Linked DNA regions of Homo sapiens: all the other regions are linked to region 2. The links come from fine-mapping of genetic effects on gene expression. A gene starts in region 2. Each other region holds a variant in brackets. All regions are shown on one strand. Distances are from middle to middle.

The links. PIP is the estimated chance that this variant, and not a neighbour inherited with it, causes the effect.
Region 1: its variant is the best candidate, but not a certain one, in a credible set for the expression of ALDH8A1 in lung (TOPMed, PIP 0.79).
Region 3: its variant is the best candidate, but not a certain one, in a credible set for the expression of ALDH8A1 in tibial artery (GTEx, PIP 0.81).
Region 4: its variant is the best candidate, but not a certain one, in a credible set for the expression of ALDH8A1 in whole blood (INTERVAL, PIP 0.90).

What each region holds. Positions count from the first base shown.
Region 1 is chr6:134,830,776-134,835,931 of GRCh38, reverse strand. All of the region lies in intron 2 of LOC101928277 (a long non-coding RNA gene), which reads left to right. Among named protein-coding and RNA genes, the nearest start is that of ALDH8A1, 120 kb to the left of the region's middle. The variant C/T (reference allele first, on the strand shown) is at 1,998.
Region 2 is chr6:134,947,929-134,953,084 of GRCh38, reverse strand. It overlaps ALDH8A1 (aldehyde dehydrogenase 8 family member A1), which reads left to right and starts at 2,984. Exons shown (of 7, transcript NM_022568.4): 1 at 2,984-3,169. The coding sequence starts at 3,032.
Region 3 is chr6:135,067,334-135,072,489 of GRCh38, reverse strand. No RefSeq gene overlaps it. Among named protein-coding and RNA genes, the nearest start is that of HBS1L, 15 kb to the right of the region's middle. The variant T/C (reference allele first, on the strand shown) is at 2,133.
Region 4 is chr6:135,037,785-135,042,940 of GRCh38, reverse strand. HBS1L (HBS1 like translational GTPase) reads left to right here. Exons shown (of 18, transcript NM_006620.4): 3 at 815-940; 4 at 3,174-3,368. Among named protein-coding and RNA genes, the nearest start is that of HBS1L, 14 kb to the left of the region's middle. The variant G/A (reference allele first, on the strand shown) is at 2,122.

The DNA of each region.
Region 1 (5,156 bases), 120 kb after region 2:
TTAAGACCTTTGCAAACTGAATTTATATAATCTATGTTTGATTTGCATTTGGGGGATAGTTTTCAACTGAGCGAATACTTAAAATGTATTTAAAATGAAAATCACACCCTCGTGGAGTTAGTAGGCATAGAAATTGAAGAAAGCATAGATAGAACAAGAAAAGACAGAAAGCTGGGTGACTTACCTACAAAGCACAAGCACATCCATGTTTTTCTTTTTCTGATATATGTATTTTACTGCCCATGGACAGACTAGTCTTGGAAAAAATCTTCTGCTTATATCTTTTTGTTAGATACTTTGAATTTTCAGTATGACCTTTCCCCTGCAACCATCATTAAATTCTCTAAATAATAACAAGACAGTTTTCCTTTTTTCTACTTGTATTTATGGGAACTGTATTAAAATTGATTAAAATAAATCATGTGTGTTAAGTACTAATCTCATTTTCTTTCTTTTATTCCCATGGCCAATGTTACAGTGTCAATATGGATGTCTTTGTGCCCTAGGGAGACAGAAAACAGAGGTTATCCATCTTTGCCAAGGAGATTGATGTCTTAGTCAATATCATCATGGGACACCTGGAAAAACTGGCCACTCTTCTCCCTACAACTCCTTCCTGATTTTCAGCTCACCAGGGGTCCTGCTCTTGTTCCTCCCATTATTATGGCCAGAGAATGTCAAGCTTTAGTAACTCCCTGTACAAAATGCCCTTGAAGAAAGATAAGAAAGTGTCAGAAAAGAATACGTCCTCATTATAATTCCTCCACCTCCTTGGAAAGTGTTATTTGACTCAGTTTCCCTCTCACTTGGGGATAGTGGGTGTTTCAGGCATCCTAGGTCTATTGCTTTTGATTCTTATCAGTCAACACAATAGTAAGGTCTTTTCTATGATGTTGCTTTTGCATTTTATATTGTCTCACTAAGTTTCAAAACATCTAGTAATGACCATTTCCTTACATTATAATTTAAAGTCAGCTCCCCGCTTTGTAACAAGCCAATTAGTTCCACCTTGCAACAGATAGGGGGAGAAGCTGTTGTTCTAAATGTTAGGCCATTTTTTTCTTATTATTTTAAATCAGTGTTCCATTTTTCCCTGTTGATTTTTAAACTCAAAATCTGTTGTGTGATTTTGAAGACTATGAAAATGGGAGGAAAATGAAAAACATCTCCAAACATACTAATATTTTAAACCCCTTTGGTACGTACACACAGAATTATTGTAGTTTGCATGTGGGATCTTGATTGTGTTGCTATGAATTATTTAAACACAGCTTATGCAACATAGAGAACTAGTGTCTAAAACTATGAACAATCATTTCCTTACTTTTGAGGTCGTGTGTTTATTGGTTCTGCCGATGTCATCAAGGGATATTTTATTTTCTATCAGCCTAGCTTTCAGACTTGCTTCTGGCTTTGACTGCTAGTCTATTAACAAGTTTTTCTAAATTCAACCTGTTGTGCGTGGAAACCGTGTCACATGTGACAAAACAATGACCCACATACCACAAACTTCAGGTTGGCATCTATGACGTTCAGGCTGACTCCTGTTTCAAAAAATGTCTAAAATTATAGCATCTATTTGATTGCTTTTCCACAAGGGAAACGGTCTAGGAAAATACCCCCGGGCTCTGAAAGTTGTTAGAGCTTTAGCTTTAGTTACCTTTATTTTAGGGTCCAGCTTAGCTCTCTGCAAATATCGTCTTATGTTTTTGTTTTTCCCTTATGAAATAACTCACTATATCTGTGAGCTAATTAAAGGTCCTTTGAATTTCTTTACTGTACCTAGAAAAGTCTCCTGGGGTGAAATGAGTGCACAGTAATCTCTGTTTTTCTCTTCCTCCCTCCCTCCCCTAACCCACCCTCCCTCCCCCTTTCTCTCTGTGGACTTGAGGAGGGATCCCTCCGTTAGTGATAAATATTAAATCCTACACTGTGCTTAAAAGGATAACTAGGCCGGGTGCAGTGACTCATGCCTGTAATCCCAGCACTTTGAGAGG[C/T]CCAGGTGGGTGGATCACCTGAGGTCAGGAGCTCCGAGACCAGCCTGGCCAACATGGTGAAACTCCCGTCTCCACTAAAAACACAAAAATTAGCCATGTGTGGTGGCAGTCACCTGTAATCCCATCTACTCGAGAGGCTGAAGCTGTAGAATCACTTGAACCCGGGAGGCAGAGGTTGCAGTGAGCTGAGATGGCACCATTACACTCCAGACTGGGCAACAAGAGTGAAACTCCGTCTCAAAAAAAAAAAAAAAAAAAAAAAAGGATAACTAAAAATACACATATAATGGGGTAGATTTGATTTAATAAACATTTAATATGAAAAAAAGTCCCCTGGAGCAGGGGTGGGTGACTAGTTGGCTGTGAGTTAGCAGTGTGGCATGGCCACGAGTCCTGCAGAAGGCTTTTAGGTCTAGGTCAGCACCAGAGAAGGGTCCACAGTTGTGGAGCAATCCTTGAGGCCTCTGACACTATCTTTGTCTCCAGGTCCTGCATTTCAAGTGAAATTTTCCCCAAAGTTCACCCAGTGAGGAGCAATCAGAATCATTGGATCTTGAAACAGGGGCATTTGAGTGATGAGCCAGGAAAAATATGATTCAGGATGGTGCATAATTACTCTTCCAGATGTTTGAAGGGTGTTAAGAGGAAGACAGAGTCCATGTCTTCATGTGGCTTCAAGAGCAAAATTCTGGCCAGCAGGTAAAATTATAGCAAATATATTTCAGGCTGGGGGCCGTGGCTTATGCCTGTAATCCCATCATTAGGCAAGGCCGAGGTGGGAGAATCCCTTGAGTTTAGATGTTTGAGACCAGCCATCATGAGATCCCTATCTTTACAAAAATCTTACAAATTAGCTGGCATAGTAATCCCAGCTACTTGGGAGGCTGGGGTAAGAGGATTGCTTGAGCCCAAGAGTTCAAGGCTGCAGTGAGCCAAGATTGGCCACTGCACTCCAGCCTGGGTGACAGTGAGATCCTGTCTCTAAGAAAAATGAAAAAGAAAAAGCCCATTTCAGCTTAAGGAAAGAAAGCCATTTCCAATGGTCCCAGCTCTCTGAGATGGGAGAAGAGTGCTACAGGATGTATGTAGTGAGTCCCTGTTCCTAGGTTGAGGACAGGGAAGATGGCTGCTCCCCTTGAGGGGATGTGGCAGGGATTGGACCGAACGTCTCTGTGGATCCTATCAACGCCAAGATCCTCTGGTGCTGTTAGAAAACACGAATTCTCTGTTTCTAAATAAGTGAAGTTTCAGCCTATGACAGGCTCTCTACAAAAACAAAATGCAAATGTACATTAGGGACAAATGGGCTAAGTTCTGGGATCCTGGAATGAGGCTGCCTGGGTTTACCGTTTATGAGACAATATTGTTACCTTCTCAATTTTCCCATGTGTAAACTGGAAGTGTTAGTAGCATGTGTCTCTTAAGGTTGTTGTAAGGATTAAGCAGGTTAGTGTATGTAAAGATGTTAGATGGGGGAAGGCACAAGCAAGCTCTGTGTATGGGTTAGCTGTTTCTAGCATTACCAAGGCACTTTCTGCATGAAAGTACAAAGTTAATGTTGCATCTTCAAAAATCAAAGTAATCAGATATTCAGATAGTGGAGTCCCGATGAGCGAGATTCCACTGGGCAGTCTGGTCCAAATTCATCCTCCACTTTTTCAACTGAATACAGAACATCAATCTAGAGAATTGTTTTGTTTTGTTTTTTTTTGAGACAAAGTCTCACTCTGTCGCCCAGGCTGGAGGACGGTGGTACGATCTTGGCTCACTGCAGCCTCTGTCTCCTGGGTTCAAGCAATTCTCCTGCCTCAGCCTCCTGAGTAGCTGGGATTACAGGCACGCATCACCACGCCCAGCTAATTTTTGTATTTTTAGTGGAGATGAGGTTTTGCCATGTTGGCCAGGCTGGTCTCAAACTTCTGACCTCAAATGATTCACCTGCCTCAGCCTCCCAAAGTGGTGGGATTACAGGTGTGAGCCACCGTGTCCAGCCCCAATCTAAATTTTTTGTACCATTAGTGGACAATGATTTTTCTTTTTTACTTTTTTTTGTTTTTTGAGGCAGAGTCTCGCTTTGTTGCCAGGCTGGAGTGCGGTGGCACGATCTCGCTCACTGCAACCTCCGCCTCCCAGGTTCAAGCAATTCTCCCGCCTCAGCCTCCCAACTAGCTGGGATTGCAGTGGCGCACCACCATGCCTAGCTACTTTTTGTATTTTTAGTAGACACAGGGTTTCCCCATGTTGGCCAGGCTAGTCTTGAACTCCTGACCTCAAGTGATCTGCCTGCCTTGGCCTCCCAAAATGCTGGGATTACAGGCGTGAGCCACCGCGCCTGGCCATGGACAATGATTTTTCTAACTCAAACAAATACCAAAATGCATCATATAGTTGTTCAATGAGTAGCTTTCACCATGAGACAATAAATAATTTAGTTAACATTTCTTGGTCTTCTCTAAAATATCAAAAGCTTTCCAATTCACTTAAGCTGGCTAAACCCCTAATTATTATTCTAGCAACAAAACTGGGGCCAGTTCCAGGCATCAGTGTGAAATGGCTTTCTCTGAATTGTAGCATAAATGATAAATAAATAATGCCTAATATTAGAGGTAACTGAATTAGAGTATGTTTAGTGCAAGCATCTATTGCAGCAGAAAAAAGATTCAGCAGAGAGAGAAGAGGACATTTTGGATCAAGAAAAAAACACAATAGCATGTGTAAGAGGTTATTAACTCTGCACCATTTGCCCACTCCCTTAGTAATGTTTAACAAGGCTTTATTGATTACAATAGCCTTGATTTGTAAATGGGAACAGAAGATCACATTGTTGGCACCAGACCAGTCCTTGCCTACAGCATCTGCCAGCTGAAGACTTCATTAATAATTGACTTTAGGGGGATTATACGCGCCCATATGGGCCTGTCTTTTGCCAGCATCCTTCATCACAATATGCAGCTTGATTTATGAATAATTGTAGGATATTAGTTCTGGAAGACACCACAGACTGGAAATTGGAGAATTTAATCAGTGGCAGAGCCAGAGTCAGATTTTCTGACTCCTATTGCAAAGCCTTTTACACTAAATATATGTGGACTCTCATCAGCAACCTGAAATGTTGGCTGCAGATTTAAAAAATCTGACAGCTCAATAATATAAAATATT
Region 2 (5,156 bases):
CTGGCAGTGAATCCACCCCTTGGGATGTGGTGGGGGGTGGATTCTGTGACCGCAAATGGGAGTACGTTTCACCCATGGGTCAGAATGCTGTTACAGGGATGTGGTAAGAACAGATCTGCATTCAGCAGGACACACTGGCGAGCAGATGGAGCCAGCCAGAATAATTCAGGAGCAGGTGATACCCACATGTCCAGTGAAGCAGGTAGAACTACCTAGAAGTAGGTTCTCAGCCACTAGGCCCAGATATAGGATTTCATGTCTCTTCAAGGGAAACCGACAGGAGAAACGTTGGTGCCAACTTAGAGAAAAGGCCTTGAAGGCATGTCAGAGCTCAGGTATCAGGACTGGGGTCAACTGACATGACCAGACTCTGAATGAGGCCCATGCTCTGTCCTCCAGGATGAAAGTCTCCCAGCTCAGCTGAGCTCTGATTCCAGAGTCATCTCTGTGGTTGACCTGCAGGTGGGGATCAAATGGTTGCACTGTGGACAGAAAAGGGCTGACAGGGGGAAGTGGGGGAAGGCCAAGTACATTATGAAAAACCAGCGAGGCCAGGCACAGTGGCTCACGCCTGTAATCCCAGCACTTTGGGAGGCTGAGGAGGGCGGATCACTTGAGGTCAGGAGTTTGAGAACAGCCTGACCAACATGGTGAAACCCCGTCTCTACTAAAAATACAAAATTAGCCAGGCGTGGTGGCACATACCTGTAATCCCAGCTACTTGGGAGGCTGAGGCAGGAGAATTGCTTGAACCCAGGAAGCAGAGGTTGCTGTGAGCTGAGATCATGCCATTGCACTCCAGCCCGGGCAACAAGAGTGAAACTCTGTCTCAAAAAAAAAAAAAGAAAAAGAAAAACCAGCGAAGGCCCAGCTTGAGCAGCCAATGGCACAAGAAAATGGCACAAGGAGGCCACTGTAACTGACAGACACGCCTGCTCTGCCACTGGGACTGATCTTGTGTGGGGAGTTCTGATCAGCACCAGGCACTCTTTAGAAGCACCGTGTCCGGCTTCTGTCCTCTTCTACTGTCACGTGGCAGAAAATTCCTCTCTCATGCTATCCTGGGTAAAGTCCTTTCTTCAAAAAGATCTCCCTTCCATAGTCCTCCCATTAGAATCTTTTGCACTCTGTACAAAAAGACAAACATTCTGATGAGTCCATCAACATTAGGCAGAGTTGTTGGAGACCCAGGAAGATGGGCTACAGAAGTCTTTATGCACACACCGGGTGGTACTCACTGTCTCTCAGCACCAAGCTCACTTCTTGGTACTTCACTCTGTGGTGCCAGGGCTGGGACCTGCGTATTTCTCTCATTCTGTTTCCAGCTGACCTGACCGTGGGCAGCACCAGAAAAAGCCTGAGACTACCTTCTGTCTCCAGTCCCTGTCAGCGACTCTCCAGCGACAGGCAACGGCGCCAGCTCCAGACTCCAGCTGCTCTGGGCCTCCCAGAATCAGCCACACCATGCTTGTCAGAAGTCTCAGCAAGAATTTTGGAGAATATCTAGAGACCAATAAAGATGGAAGCAGAGAGGGCCTAAGGAGGTGCACGGCCAGCAAGTGCCCTCATGTGATCAATGAATTTTAGAATATTGGTACCTAACCTTCAACTGAATTATAACTATAAATCATAATTATAAAAGTAATATAGGCTTGCCATAAAATATCCAAGCAGTTTAAAACGGCTTCCTGTCAACCATGTAAATAGCCAAAGAAACTATGCTGTATATATTATTCACTAGTTTTATTTTTTCACTTAACAATGCATCCTTCTAATGTCTAAGTAGTATTCCCTGTTAAGAATATAACAATTATACTCTAATATTCTCCAATTGATGGACTTTAGGTTGTTTTGATTTTTAAATTATGATAAAAAAGGATGTCCTGTGACTTATGTACTTGTTCATGAGCACGTAATTCTGTAGGAGAGATTCCTAGAAGAGAAATTGACCAGACCCTGACAAATTGCCCCAAGCAGTGTTCTGTGAACCCTCCCGCCTATGGACTAGGGATGATTCTCCACATCCTCACAGAGTAGATGTTCTCAATCTTTAAAAATGCTCTCCAGTATGATTGGCAAATCAGGCCACCTCTGTATTTCACATTCCTTGCTTAACAACAAGGCTGAACATTGTTAATATATTCATTAGCCAATTGTGTTCCTTTTCCTATGGATTGCTTTTTTGTATCTTTGCTTATCTTTTCTGTTGGGGTGCTCATTTCTCTTACCAATTTGTAGAAATTCTCAGCTACATCAGGGATCTGAAGCCCTTGCTATATGTGTCACACATGTTTTTGGCTTGTCTTTATCTCCATGGCACATCTAGGAAGATGTGAGCAGCCACTGTGGCCCCGGTTTTGGGATGGAGAGACAGCTCTTCCAAGAGAGGGCAGCCAAGGTAAAGAAACACAGATGAGCCACGGAAAGAGGGCATCTGTCTTCAGTTACCTCTGCAGGGTAAGCAGTGATGCATTGAGGAAAAAGTATATGATTTGGAGATTAAAGGGCTACAGTTCATCCCCTGCTAACTATGTGACCTTGGAAAAATGGTCTAACCTCTCCAAGGCTCAGTTTCTTCTATAAAAGAGAGGAAGTAATGGTTACTTCATATAGGATTGTTGTGTGGAATAAACGAGTAAATTCATGTAAAGGACTTGCTTTGGGGCCTGGCATCCAATCAGTGTTTGAGCAATGAACAGTTTACGGTGTGAACCCAATAAAATCACATGCACAGATGCCTTCTGATGATTTAAAGGGCTATGAACACATAAGTAAGTAGCTGTTACTTTTACACACAATTATCCATGTCAGGTAATGTACTAGAAGTCTGTGAAACATTCAGCCACTCTCTTAGTTCTGAGTTTGGAGACTGGAATGCTCTCTGAGAGCGTCAGGTGCCCTCCCACATTCACTGATTGGTAAAGGGGAAGATGGGGGCTGGGAAGGGGGAGGCTCACTCAGGAGTCCAGACAGTGGTGGGGACAACCTGAGTGCTCAGTCGTAAAGAGGAAAGGCAGAATTTTTCCTTGCTATGGCTGGAACAAACGCACTTTTGATGCTGGAAAACTTCATAGATGGAAAATTTTTACCTTGTAGCTCATATATAGATTCTTACGACCCATCAACAGGGGAAGTGTATTGCAGAGTGCCAAATAGTGGAAAAGACGAGGTGAGTATATGCACTTAAAGAAGACTGAAATGTGTTTAATATGTTGGCCAATTATGGGTAACAGTTTTCTAAAAGCAGAGGGAGTTGGGGGAAGATGTAGGATTGTTAAACATGATAGAAGGAAGATTCTAGTTCTCAGAAGATGTACCTTGTAACTGGACTGTATGATACCTAGAACAAATCTCTTCCTATATGCAGAAAGTAAGTCATTTTTCTAGCCAACCTAACACAGCCCTGTGTGCAGTTTTTTTTTGCAATTCTCAAACATTTCCTAATCAGTGTCTAGTACAAAGTATTATTTGTAAGAGCTATCACTTTGTTAAATATTCCCTTTTCTCCACCACGCACTGCTTAAATTTACCACTATATCCATGGAATTAAAAAAAAAGTATAGCTTTACTAAAATAAACAAACAAGCAAAAAACTGTGGGCTTTGTTTTAGATTGTCTTCTCATAATTTGTCATGTCTTCAAAATACCTAGTAAAATAAAATCAATCATTTGAATGATGAAACTCAAAATCAAATTCCCATATATTTTTGGAGTTAGATTTAACAGCGTCTTTTTTCTTATCCAAAGTGTTTAATGGCATATGCATTACATTTTTTTGGTGATGTAGAATTAATTTTACTTGGAGAATTTTGTAAAATATTTGAGATATATTTGATTAGCTATCAATTATTGCACTGAGAATGTAAATATATCTGAAGTGGTAAATGTAGCTGATGTATATATAGTCATCTAATGCCTTATGAATTATAATTTATTCTTTTTAAGGCACAAATAACTAGATTATTTAAAATATAGTCTTCCTATAAAAATATATATTCCATGCAAAGTTTTTTTTTAAGAACATTGCTATTTTTTTTCTTTTTTGTTAATACTTCAAATCTGTCTTGCATTTAAAGTAAACCTTCAGACTTAGGGATTAATGTTTGCAAATGTTGGTTAATGCATTGGTTAAATTATAAACTGCAATTTTGTTTGCTTCAAATGACTTAACACAGCTCTGGGAAATCCAGCTTTGTGTTTTCCACTCTTCCTTGTTTGCCAAAGTGAAGTTAAAAATGACAAACATGCCAAATTCAGCTGAAATATTTCCTGCAGCTAATGGCTCATAACTTTTTAGAAAATAGAATGAGCTATGGATGCGCTAGCTAGTAGAGTAATAGATATGTTCAGTTTCTCAGCAATCCAACTTCCAAATATCCTATCTGATCCCATAAGTCATAGTTTTTTCCGGCTTGAAAAATATGGTTACCATACAAACTGCATGTCCAATTTCCAAAACATCACTCAGGAAAATGTTGCTGGTGCTGCTAACAGTGGCTCCCGTTTATTCAACTTTTGCTTTGTGCTTTGCAGTCATTAAGCCCTTTTTTAACAAAAAATTAAAAAATTGATACATAATAATTGTACATCTTTATGGGCATATGTGACATTTTGATACATGCATACAATGTGTCATGATCAAATCAGGGTAATTAGGATCTCCATCACATTAAACATTTATCATTTCTTGGTGTTGGGAACATTCCAAATCTTTTCTTCTAACTATTGTGAAATATACAATAAATTATTGTTAACTATTGTCACTCTACTAGAACTTATTCCTTTTAACCATATTTTTGTATTAATTAGCCAACCTCTATCCTCTCCTCTACCCTTCCCAGCCTCTGGTAACCATAATTGTACTCTCTACCTCCATGAGATCAACTTTTTTAAGCTTCCACATATGAGTGAGAACATGTAATATTTGTATTTTTGTGCCTTGCTTACTTCACTTAACGTAATATCCTCCAGCTCAAATCGTGTTGGTGCAAATGACAGGATTTTGTTCCTTTTTATGGCTGAATAATATTCCATTGTGTATATATACCATATTTTCTTTATCCATTCAGCTGTTGATGGACATTAGGTTGAGTCCATATCTTGACTATTGTAAATAGTGCTTCAACAAATATGGGGGTACAGGTATCTCTTCAGTA
Region 3 (5,156 bases), 120 kb before region 2:
TCAACAGGATGCTTCTCATAATGGGAAATTCATTGAGACACTTCATTCCATTGCTGAAAAGCTTTCTGTATGCCGGGCGCGGTGGCTCAGGCCTCTAATCCCAGCACTTTGGGAGGCCGAGGCAGGTGGATCAAGAGGTGAGGAGAGCGAGACCATCCTGGCTAACACAGTGAAACCCCGTCTCTACTAAAAAATACAAAAAAATAGCCGGGCGTGGTGGCGGGCGCCTGTAGTCCCAGCTACTTGGGAGCCTGAGGCAGGAGAATGGCGTGAACCCGGGAGGCGGAGCTTGCAGTGAGCCAAGATCGCGCCACTGCACTGCAGCCTGGGCGACAGAGCGAGACTCCGTCTCAAAAACAAACAAACAAAAAGCTTTGTGTGCATTTCCCTCAAATTCAACTGAGACTTTTGTCTTTATAAATCCCACTCTTCTAGGACAACACAAAATAAAGTTATTCTAAAATCTATAGAATAGTTCTTAGAATTGCTACGTGATGGCTTAGACTGCTATTTGATGATAGCAGTCACGTCATCCTTTAGCCTTCTACTCTCTAATATAATTAGCTCCAAGATATTCAATGTTTTTTTCTATAACATGGTATTCATCATCTTACATCATCTTGGTCCTTAACTGTCAGTCTTCATGCCACTGTGTGTAACCATCTGATTCTCATGGTTCTCCATCTTAGTCCACTTGGGTTGCTAAAACAAAAATACCACAGACTGGATGACCTAAACAACAGGCATTTATTTCTCATAGTTGTGAAGGCTGAAGGAGAACAATATCATGATGCCAGCAGATTTGGTGTCTCATGAGGGCTCACTTCCTAGTTCATCTCTCTGTGTCTTCATATGTCAGAAAGAGGGCCAGAGAGCTGTCTGGGATCTCTTTGGTAATGATATTAATCCCATTTATGAGGGCTCCAAACAAATGAATTAATTACTTTCCAAAGGCTCCACTTTCTAATGCCATCACACTGGGGATTAGGATTTTAACATGAATTTTTGGGTGACAAACTCAATCTATAACATTTCCTTTCATCCATTTTCCAGTACACATTTATTTCACCTTTAACATTTATTTGGCTATGGCTATGGTTTGAATGTATCCCCCAAAAGTTCATGTGTTGGAAATCTAATTTCTCTCTTCATGAATGGATTAATGAATTAATGTCACTATCATGGGAGTGGGTTTCTTATACAAGTGAGCTCTCTGGCTCTCTTGCTCTTGCCCTCTTACCAAGCGATGTCCTCTGTCATGTTATGATGCAGCAAGAGGGCCCTCGCCAAATGCTGGTGCTATGCTCTTGGACTTCCTAGTCTCTAGAACCATGAGCTAAATAAACTTATTTTGTTTATAAATTGCCCAGTCTATGGTATTCTGTTATAGCAACAGAAAGTGGACTAAGATAGTTATTTAAAATAACTGTTGCATTTTATCTAATGTCCAAATTTGAACATATTGCTTATAAACAACTTTGAAACGGATACTGTGTTGTCCTTTACATTTCATTTGTATAATATATAGTAAAAGACAGAGAAAAATGGGCAACATTTTCAATTCTAAAATAATTATTAAAATAAATATGAAGATAAATGTTTCAAACACCTTTTTACACGTGGAAATCAGAATGTATGATATAGTTTATTATTTGCTGCAATCTATAAAAATTTCCTTATAAAGAGGTGATGCAAGCATTTTGTCGGCCTTGGAAGGATTATGTATCTTTAAGAATTAAAGCTAGAGGCTGGGTATAGTGGCTGACACCTGTAATTTCAGCACTTTGGGAGGCCTAAGCGGGTGGATCGCTTAAGTGCAGAAATTTGAGACCAGCCATGGGCACCGTAGCAAAACCCCATCTCTACAAAACAAAAAACAAAAAAACAAAAATTATCTGGGTGTGGTGCTGTGTGCCTGTAGTCCCAGATACTCAGGAGGCTGAGGTGGGAAGGTTGCTTGAGCCCAGGAGGTGGAGGTTGCAGTGAGCCAGGATTGCACCACCACACTCCAGCCTGGGAGACAGAGCAAGACCCTGTCTCAAAAAAAAAAAAAAAAAAAAAAATGAGAACTAGAAATTTGCTCGTATTTCCAGACTTTCTAAGAACCTAAGCACACACCAAGACTTAGTGTG[T/C]TTTCTGCTTTTACATTCAAAAATGATAGACGCTATAAATGCTGTGATTCAAGTATCATTTACATTTTAAACTGGAGGCCAGGCACGGTGGCTCATGCCTGTAATCCCAGCACTTTGGGAGGCCAAGGTGGGCAGATCACTTGAGGTCAGGGGTTCGCGACCAGCCTGGTCAACATAGTGAAACCTGTCTCTACTAAAAATACAAAAATTAGCCGGACATGGTGGCGCATGCCTGTAGTCCCTGCTACTTGGGAGACTGAGGCAGGAGAATCCCTTGAACCTGGGAGGCGGAGGTTGTAGTAAGCCAAGATCACACCACTGCATTCCAGCCTGGGCAACAAAGTGAGATTCCGACTCAAAAAAAAAAAAAAAAAAAAATTAAACCGGAAAGAAACTTAGAGGTCCTGTGGTAAAACCTGTTTAAAAGCAAACAAACAAACAAACAGAGGCTGGCAAAGTGAGTTGCCTTGACACAGTTAGTTGATTGCTAACCTGAAGCGTTCCTAAATTATAGATAGATATTCTTTGCCTTGCACCAAGTTGCTTTTTGATAGGAGGCAAAACAAAGGAGCCTTCCCATGCATTTCTTCATGACAAAGTTTTCTGCAGCCACTGCTTCTATTGGTAAATGAAGTACTCTTCTTAGGTTCTTTGAGAGACATGCTAAATACTGGAAATTTGCCATGACATGAAGGATACCAGAAATCAGTCCTACTAATAGGCTTACCATGATACAGGTTATTTCCGAATTCCTGATTTACCCCTTATTCTAGAGTGCCTATATTAAGGCACATAAAGAATTTAAAAATCTCTCTCCTTGTGGGACACTTCCTCCCTAAACATCAGTGTGCCCCTGAAAGGTTCTTTTCCCTAAGTAGAATGAGTAAATCACAAGGCAACAGCTCTATACAAGGAGTTCAGAATTCATCAAGCCAATACTCCTAGGTCCAGGGCTGAGAAGAAGAAAGAGGGGCCAATATAAAGGCCAGTCTATGTTTGGCTCTTCTTATTGGTCTCGTTAAACAAATTGTGATTTTAAAAAAATTTCTAGTATATTTTTCCTCTAAAGCTGTTTATTGTTTTTTCTTCTTTTTCATTGTCTGTCAATAGGCTATGACTAGTGGAGAAAGCAATAATGACCTATATATTAAGACAGATTTATGTACACTAGTATGTCTGAGTATAGGAACAAAATTATCTCAGCTTTTGTCTGGCCTAAAACTCTTGGAATGGAATAATTAATTCTTAAGCATTTTACTGAAGGTTTAAAAATATCTTTATAGAGAATTTTCTGTGTTTAATGGATTAGGAGTATCCTAATAACATGACAGTGTACTTCATTGCATGCTGCTTAATTTCCTGTCCTCTTTTTCATTCACTAATAAAAGCATGACTTAAGGAATAAACTGTCCTTGGGACACATCTGAATCAATTATCAGTGCAAGTGAAATTTAATATCCCTGTAGTAATTTTTTTTTTTTGACGGAGTCTCGCACTGTCGCCTGGACTGGAGTATAATGGCACGATCTCGGCTCACTGCAACCTCTGCCTCCTGGGTTCAAGCGATTCTCCTGCCTCAACCTCCCAAGTAGCTGGGATTACAGGTGCCCTATACCTCACTCAGCTAATTTTTTGTATTTTTAGTAGAGACAGGGTTTCACTATGTTGGCCAGGCTGGTCTCGAACTCTTGACCTCGTGATCTGCCTGCCTTAGCCCCCCAAAGTGCTGGGATTACAGGCGTGAGCCACCACACCCGGCCATAATTTTTTTTTTGAGACAGAGTTTCACCCTGTTGCCCAGGCTGGAGTGCAATGCTGCGATCTAAGTTCACAGCAACCACTGCCTCCTGGGTTCAAGCAATTCTCCTGCCTCAGCCTCCTGGGTAGCTGGGATTACAGGCACGTGCCACCATGCCAGGCTAATTTTTTGTATCTTTAGTAGAGAGCGGGTTTCACCATGTTGGCCAGGCTGGTTTCGAACTCCTGAACTCATGATCCATCCGCCTCAGCCTCCCAAAGTGCTGGGATTACAGGCGTGAGCCACCGTGCCTGGCCAACACTGTAGTAATTAAAAATAATAATAATAAATGACCTACATTAATATTACTTGGGAAGATGATATTTTATCAAAAGTTTCCTTGTTCAGCTGTCATTTTTTTGAAGGGCATCAACCTTTGAATAAAGTATTTGTTCCTTAAAACTTCTCAGGCAATTAATATGTTGGGTAACAAGTGAAAGAATGGAGACTACAGAATTTCATAACATAAATTTTCCACACAGAAAATCAAGTCCTTGTTACACTAGCTTTCTTGATTCGTTTTAGTGTAACATTTCAATGGGGTAGAATAAAAAGATCTTTTATGATTATTTATGGTATACGTAGGAGGCAGTTTTCAGAATTGTGACTAGTGACCAAAGAAAATCTCACTTAAAGCAGACTCTCTAAACTTGTATTCTTTGTCATATAAATAATCCGAATCAATAGTACTTATAATTAACTTTATATAACTATCATTAGCATTTTTGTGAATTATGAGAGTCTATAGACATGTAACATGGCGGTATTTACTACTGTCTCTGTGAGATGTTTTTTGGGTTGATAATTATTCTGGTTATCTATTGCTAAACAACAACCCCAAAACTTAGTGGCTTAAAATAAACATTTATATTTGTTCACAATTCTGCAACTTGGGTAGAATCAGTGAGGACAGATGATCTCTATTCCACTCAGCATCTGCTGGGGTATCTGGAAGGCTGGACACTGGGATAATCTGAAGCCTCATTCACATACATGTCTGGTCATGAAGGCCGGTTGTCATCTGGAATCTCAGCAAAGGCACTACTGGGCACCTACATATGGCCTTTCCAAATTGCTGTTTGCCTTCCTCGTATTATGGCGACTGGGTTCTGAGGGTGAGCATCCAAAGAGGACCAAGTGAAAGCCGTATCACCTTTTATGGCCAGCTTTAGCAGGTACGTAATGTGGCTTCCAATGCAGTCATAGGTCCGCCCAGTTTTATGGGG
Region 4 (5,156 bases), 90 kb before region 2:
AGTGTGTGATTGAAAGCATGAGTTGTTTAAAGATTAAAGTCTGTATTTTCCGTGAACTCTTAGATTCAGGCAAAATTAGCACTTCATGTGTTTTCTTTTCTGTTTTTTTTTTTTGTTTTTTTTTTTTGAGACGGAGTTTTGTTCTTGTCACCCAGGCTGGAGTGCAATGGCGTGATCTCGGCTCACTGCAACCTCCGCCTCCTGGGTTCAAACGGTTCCCCTGCCTGCCTCAGCCTCCTGAGTAGCTGGGATTACAGGTGCCCACTGCCACGCCCAGCTAATTTTTATATTTTTAGTAGAGATGGGGTTTCACTGTATTTGCCAGGCTGGTCTCGAACTCCTGACCTCAGGTGATCTACCCGCCTTGGCCTCCCAAAGTGCTGGGATTGCAGGGGTGAGCCACTGCGCTTGGCCACCTTGTGTTTTCTTAATTATGTAAATTAGAAGTTTGATATTTGGTTTGAAATATTTGTATTGAAGAGAAAATTTCAGGGAACACAGAATAGTATACAAAGAAGAGATATTAGGAAAGGTAGATTTTGGAAACCAGGGAGAAAGTAGGCTGAGTGGAATGGTTTCAGAGATTGGGGGAAAGAAGGAAGAAGATTATAAGAGAATAATAAATTGTAAGCACCTTCGAGTAGGATTTTAGGTATATGTTTTGATATGATATTGTTTTTGTTTTCATCCCTTATGAAATATGGGTAACTATAGGTGATTGATTAGAATTTTTAATTTTTACTTTAACTTTTGTAAAAAAAAGTTAATAGGAAATGGCTATACCATAGCATTCTTTGATCATTTTATATTCTAGCTGCTCAGTTTATTTATTCACGGCGTGACAAACCTTCCGTTGAGCCTGTGGAAGAATATGATTATGAAGATCTGAAAGAATCTTCCAATTCTGTTTCAAACCATCAGCTCAGTGGATTTGATCAAGGTATAGCAAAAAGTAGTGTATCTGTTATCTGAAAGTGATTAATGACCAAATACACCAGAATTTATCAGTTTTATTGTGTTTATAACAGTGACTATGAACAGTAATGATGTAAACATATCTTTCATATTCAAGGACAGTTTATGTTTTATTAAGTATGTTTTGTGAGGAGTGTATTTAACTGTATGATTGAAAAATTGTATGGCTATTGTTTAGTAACTGAAATTTTAATTGAACTATCCCATTTAAAATTTTTTTCCATGGGAGAGAAACTCTAGTGATTCGTTAAGAAGAACTTTTTCAGATGATTTAATTGTTTCATAAGCTGTATATGGAGCTTATGATTAGAATACATAAACTCCTTTACTTACAAAGATGTTAAGTTCAAGAGGTTTCAAAAAAAACCAGTTGAAGTCTAAAGTGACACTGTATAAGTGTCCTCAGGATTTACATCTGTGTGAATTAAGTTTCAAGATTTACATCTGTGTGAATTAAGTTTCAAGATAGAACTTGGTAATGACATCGGTTCTGAGTTTTTGCATATTTTCAACTCTCTTAAACATTTTAATGAAGATATTTATATTTTAGCTTTCTTCTTTTATAAGTATAAATAAATAAATAAGTATAAATAAATAAATAAATAAAAAAGAGGAGGCCCTGATGCTAGCTAGCTATACTATTTTGTTACAGTTTCAATAATTGATGTATTTATCAAAGAGATAATATTATCCCATAGCTTATTAGCCTTTAAAAGTTAATCTTAAATTGAAGCAAAGCAGAATTGCCCAAATATTTCAGGAATGTATTTTTAATAATTAATGGGCCAATGAAAGAAGTATCAAATACTTTTTTTTTTAAAGAAAGGGTATTGCCAGTAGATTACTTGTTCAGCATATGAGCATGTACAATTAAATATAAATTGCATTCTGTGAAATGGTTTTGTGGAATAGGGAGTTTGAAAACCTCTATTCTATTTTGATTATTGCTAACTTAGTAGTGCCATGATTTTCAATCTTATCTTTATTAAGTTAGAATTTGCTTGATATATCTAGCTCATAGACTTATTATGAGGATTACAAAAGAAATATACATAAAAGTATTGTGAAAATTGTCAAGTGCTATACAAAAATATAAGGGAATATATCATTCATTTTTATTCATTGGCCCCTAGTTACCTGGTACTA[G/A]AGATACAAAGGGTTCTAGGGATACAAAGCCTCTCTGCTCTTATGGATTTTAAATCATTAATAAGTATTATTAATAATTACTTTTAATACTAATGTCATCAGAAAATTAAAATTCATAAACAGCTTAGATAATTCCAGACTTAAATTTTTTTCTTTTAAAAGTGAATGCCGGCTGGGCACGGTGGCTCACGCTTGTAATCCCAGCACTTTGGCAGGCCGAGGCAGGTGGAAACCTGAGGTCAGGAATTTGAGGCCAGCCTGGACAACATGGTGAAACCCATCTCTACTAAAAATAGAAAAATCAGCCGGGCATGGTGGCGGGCGTCCATAATCCCAGCTACTCAGGAGGCTGAGGTGGGAGAATTGCTTGAATCAGGGAGACGGAGGTTGCAGTGAGCTGAGATCACGCCACTGGCATTCCAGCCTGGGCAACAGAGTGAGACTCTGTCTCAAAAAAAAAAAAAAAAAAAAAAAAGAATGCCTATCCTCCCCTTAATCTCCTGGACTTTCTTATTTTTATGGCATTTTTATATTATGTTATCTTGCCGTTTTTTAAAGAGTCATTAAGGATTATTTTAGTTAGCTGGGAAGAACTGAAGTTAGCCAAAAAGGAAACTTAAGGTAGCAGCTTGAGAAATATAAGAAATATACTTCGTGAATAACTGGATTCACTAACAAATTAGAAATAGTTCCACACTCACCCCTTCCTTTCTGTACATGCAAAAAATGATCATTGCAGATACCATCATCACTGGTGACTGAAAATAGATATTAGTGTATACTGTGCAATGTACACTTTTTTGAAACATTAGTCACTATTATTCAGGAGACATTTTATTATAGTGATTTTTAAATTAACGAAATCGTTCCTTGGATAAGGGAAGATAGGTATATTGTAGATAAAAATACGATCATTAGAGATAATTTTTGCCAAAGAGAAGGGAGAGTTGAATATTCTAGTACAGCTGTAAATTTTAAAATCAGTTTTGAAGATTAAAAGTTCTTTCATTGCACCATTTAGTATAGCTTTTGACCATTGTCGTCTTTTCTAGCTCGTCTTTATTCATGCCTTGATCACATGAGAGAGGTACTTGGAGATGCTGTGCCAGATGAAATATTAATTGAAGCAGTTCTGAAGAACAAGTTTGATGTGCAGAAGGCTTTGTCAGGGGTTCTGGAACAAGATAGAGTGCAGAGTTTGAAGGACAAGAATGAGGCAACAGTATCTACAGGAAAGATAGCAAAAGGTATGCCTTTACTTGTTCTTTTTCACTTGTTTTACATAGTTAATGCCTAAAGAGAGGCTTTCGTTTGCTTGAGCTTTTAAGAAAATATTTAATTTGCTTGAGCTATTAAAATCTTGCATGTTATTGTTAACTTTTGATTATCAGTTGATCTAGTTGTGGATTTTTAGGATGATGACTGTGTTTCTTCTGTTGTAGCCTGTTTTTGTGGTTATTTTACTGCTTGATTGTTTTTGTTTGTTTTTTTGTTTGTTTTTTGAGACAGAGTCTCACTCTGTCACCCAGGCTGGAGTGCAGTGGCATGATTTTGCTCACAGCAGCCTCCACCTCCTGGGTTCAAGTGATTGTCCTTCCTCAGCCTCCCAAGTAACTGGGATTACAGGTGCGTGCCACCATGCCTGGCTTTTTTTTTTGTTTGTATTTTTAGTAGTGATGGGGTTTCACCATGTTGGTCAGGCTGTTCTTGAACTCCTGGCCTCAAGTGATCCGCCTACCTTGGCCTCCCAAAGTTCTTGGATTGCAGGCGTCAGCCACTGTACCTGGCCTCACTAGTTGATTTTATAACAACATAGTGGAAATAAAATTAGATAAGACAAGACATCTTTTTCTTCTTGTTAGTAGCTTATAGAACTTTTTAATTGTTATTTTTTTAAACTCTGATGAGATAGGAAAAGGAAATTGACAGCCAGCTAATTAATGTTAAAAAAATCCCTTTATGCTTTTATTATGTATAATTTTGTTTTATTTAAAAATAATTAGGTATAAGTATCATAATTATACTACTTTGCATTTTATAGCCAGAGATTTAATTTTAAATTTGTAAAATTTGGGGTTAAATTTGGAATTCAGTGGACATAAGAGGGGAACTGAGGTGGTAGCATTATATTAATTGGCATGCTATCTCTCAGTTTGAGTATGGCGATTTGTTTACTATGTCAGTGTTTGTTGTAACCTCTGGGCTAAATTTTTTCTACAACAAAGCTGTGTACAGCCTGTTACCATGAAATAAGAGTGTGTTTTCCAGGGATGCTGGGCACACAGATGGGCACTTGTAACTGGCTGTGATGGGAATGAGTCTGTAATATGTCATCTTGTATTGATAGTGTATCCCAGATTGTGGTAGAAATTACCGGGGGTTGTTTGCTTATTTGTTTCTAATACATTAAAATACAGAATAAAAGGAACCTAGTTTTTTTTGTTTTTTTAAAGAAGTTTTTGAATTTGAGACAATCCTGACTACAATTTAATTATGGTTAAGACCTCACATTTTTAAATTCGTGAAAATTAGAACATTGACTGACTTACATTGTATGTATCAGTGAACAGAGTATAAAGGTTACTTTAAATTGGTAAAGGAAGGTAATACTCCCTTATTGTTTTTTAGAGTATTCATGTTAAGTAATGATCAAGTATCACTTTATTCATGTCATAATCAAAAGAAGCATTTAGTAATTAAATGCCTCATTTCATGTTTCCTTTTGGTTGCTGTGACTGTCTTCTGCGTATATCAACCTATTCATCTGAAAATTAATGGCTCTTGTAAGGTAAGGAGTCTTATTTTCTTCTTCTGAAGTTTCAGCTGATAATGTTCAAAGTTCTTATCCTCAGTCAGCAAATCATTTGGATTATAGTAGCAAACCCTTTGATTTTGCTAGCTCAGTAGGAAAATACGGATTATCTCATAATTCTTCAGTTCCAACTCACTGTTTACTCCATAGAAAAAAGAAACTTGACACACGTAAAAGTGAAAAGAAACTAGAATCATGTAAGTTAACAAAAGAACTTTCACTA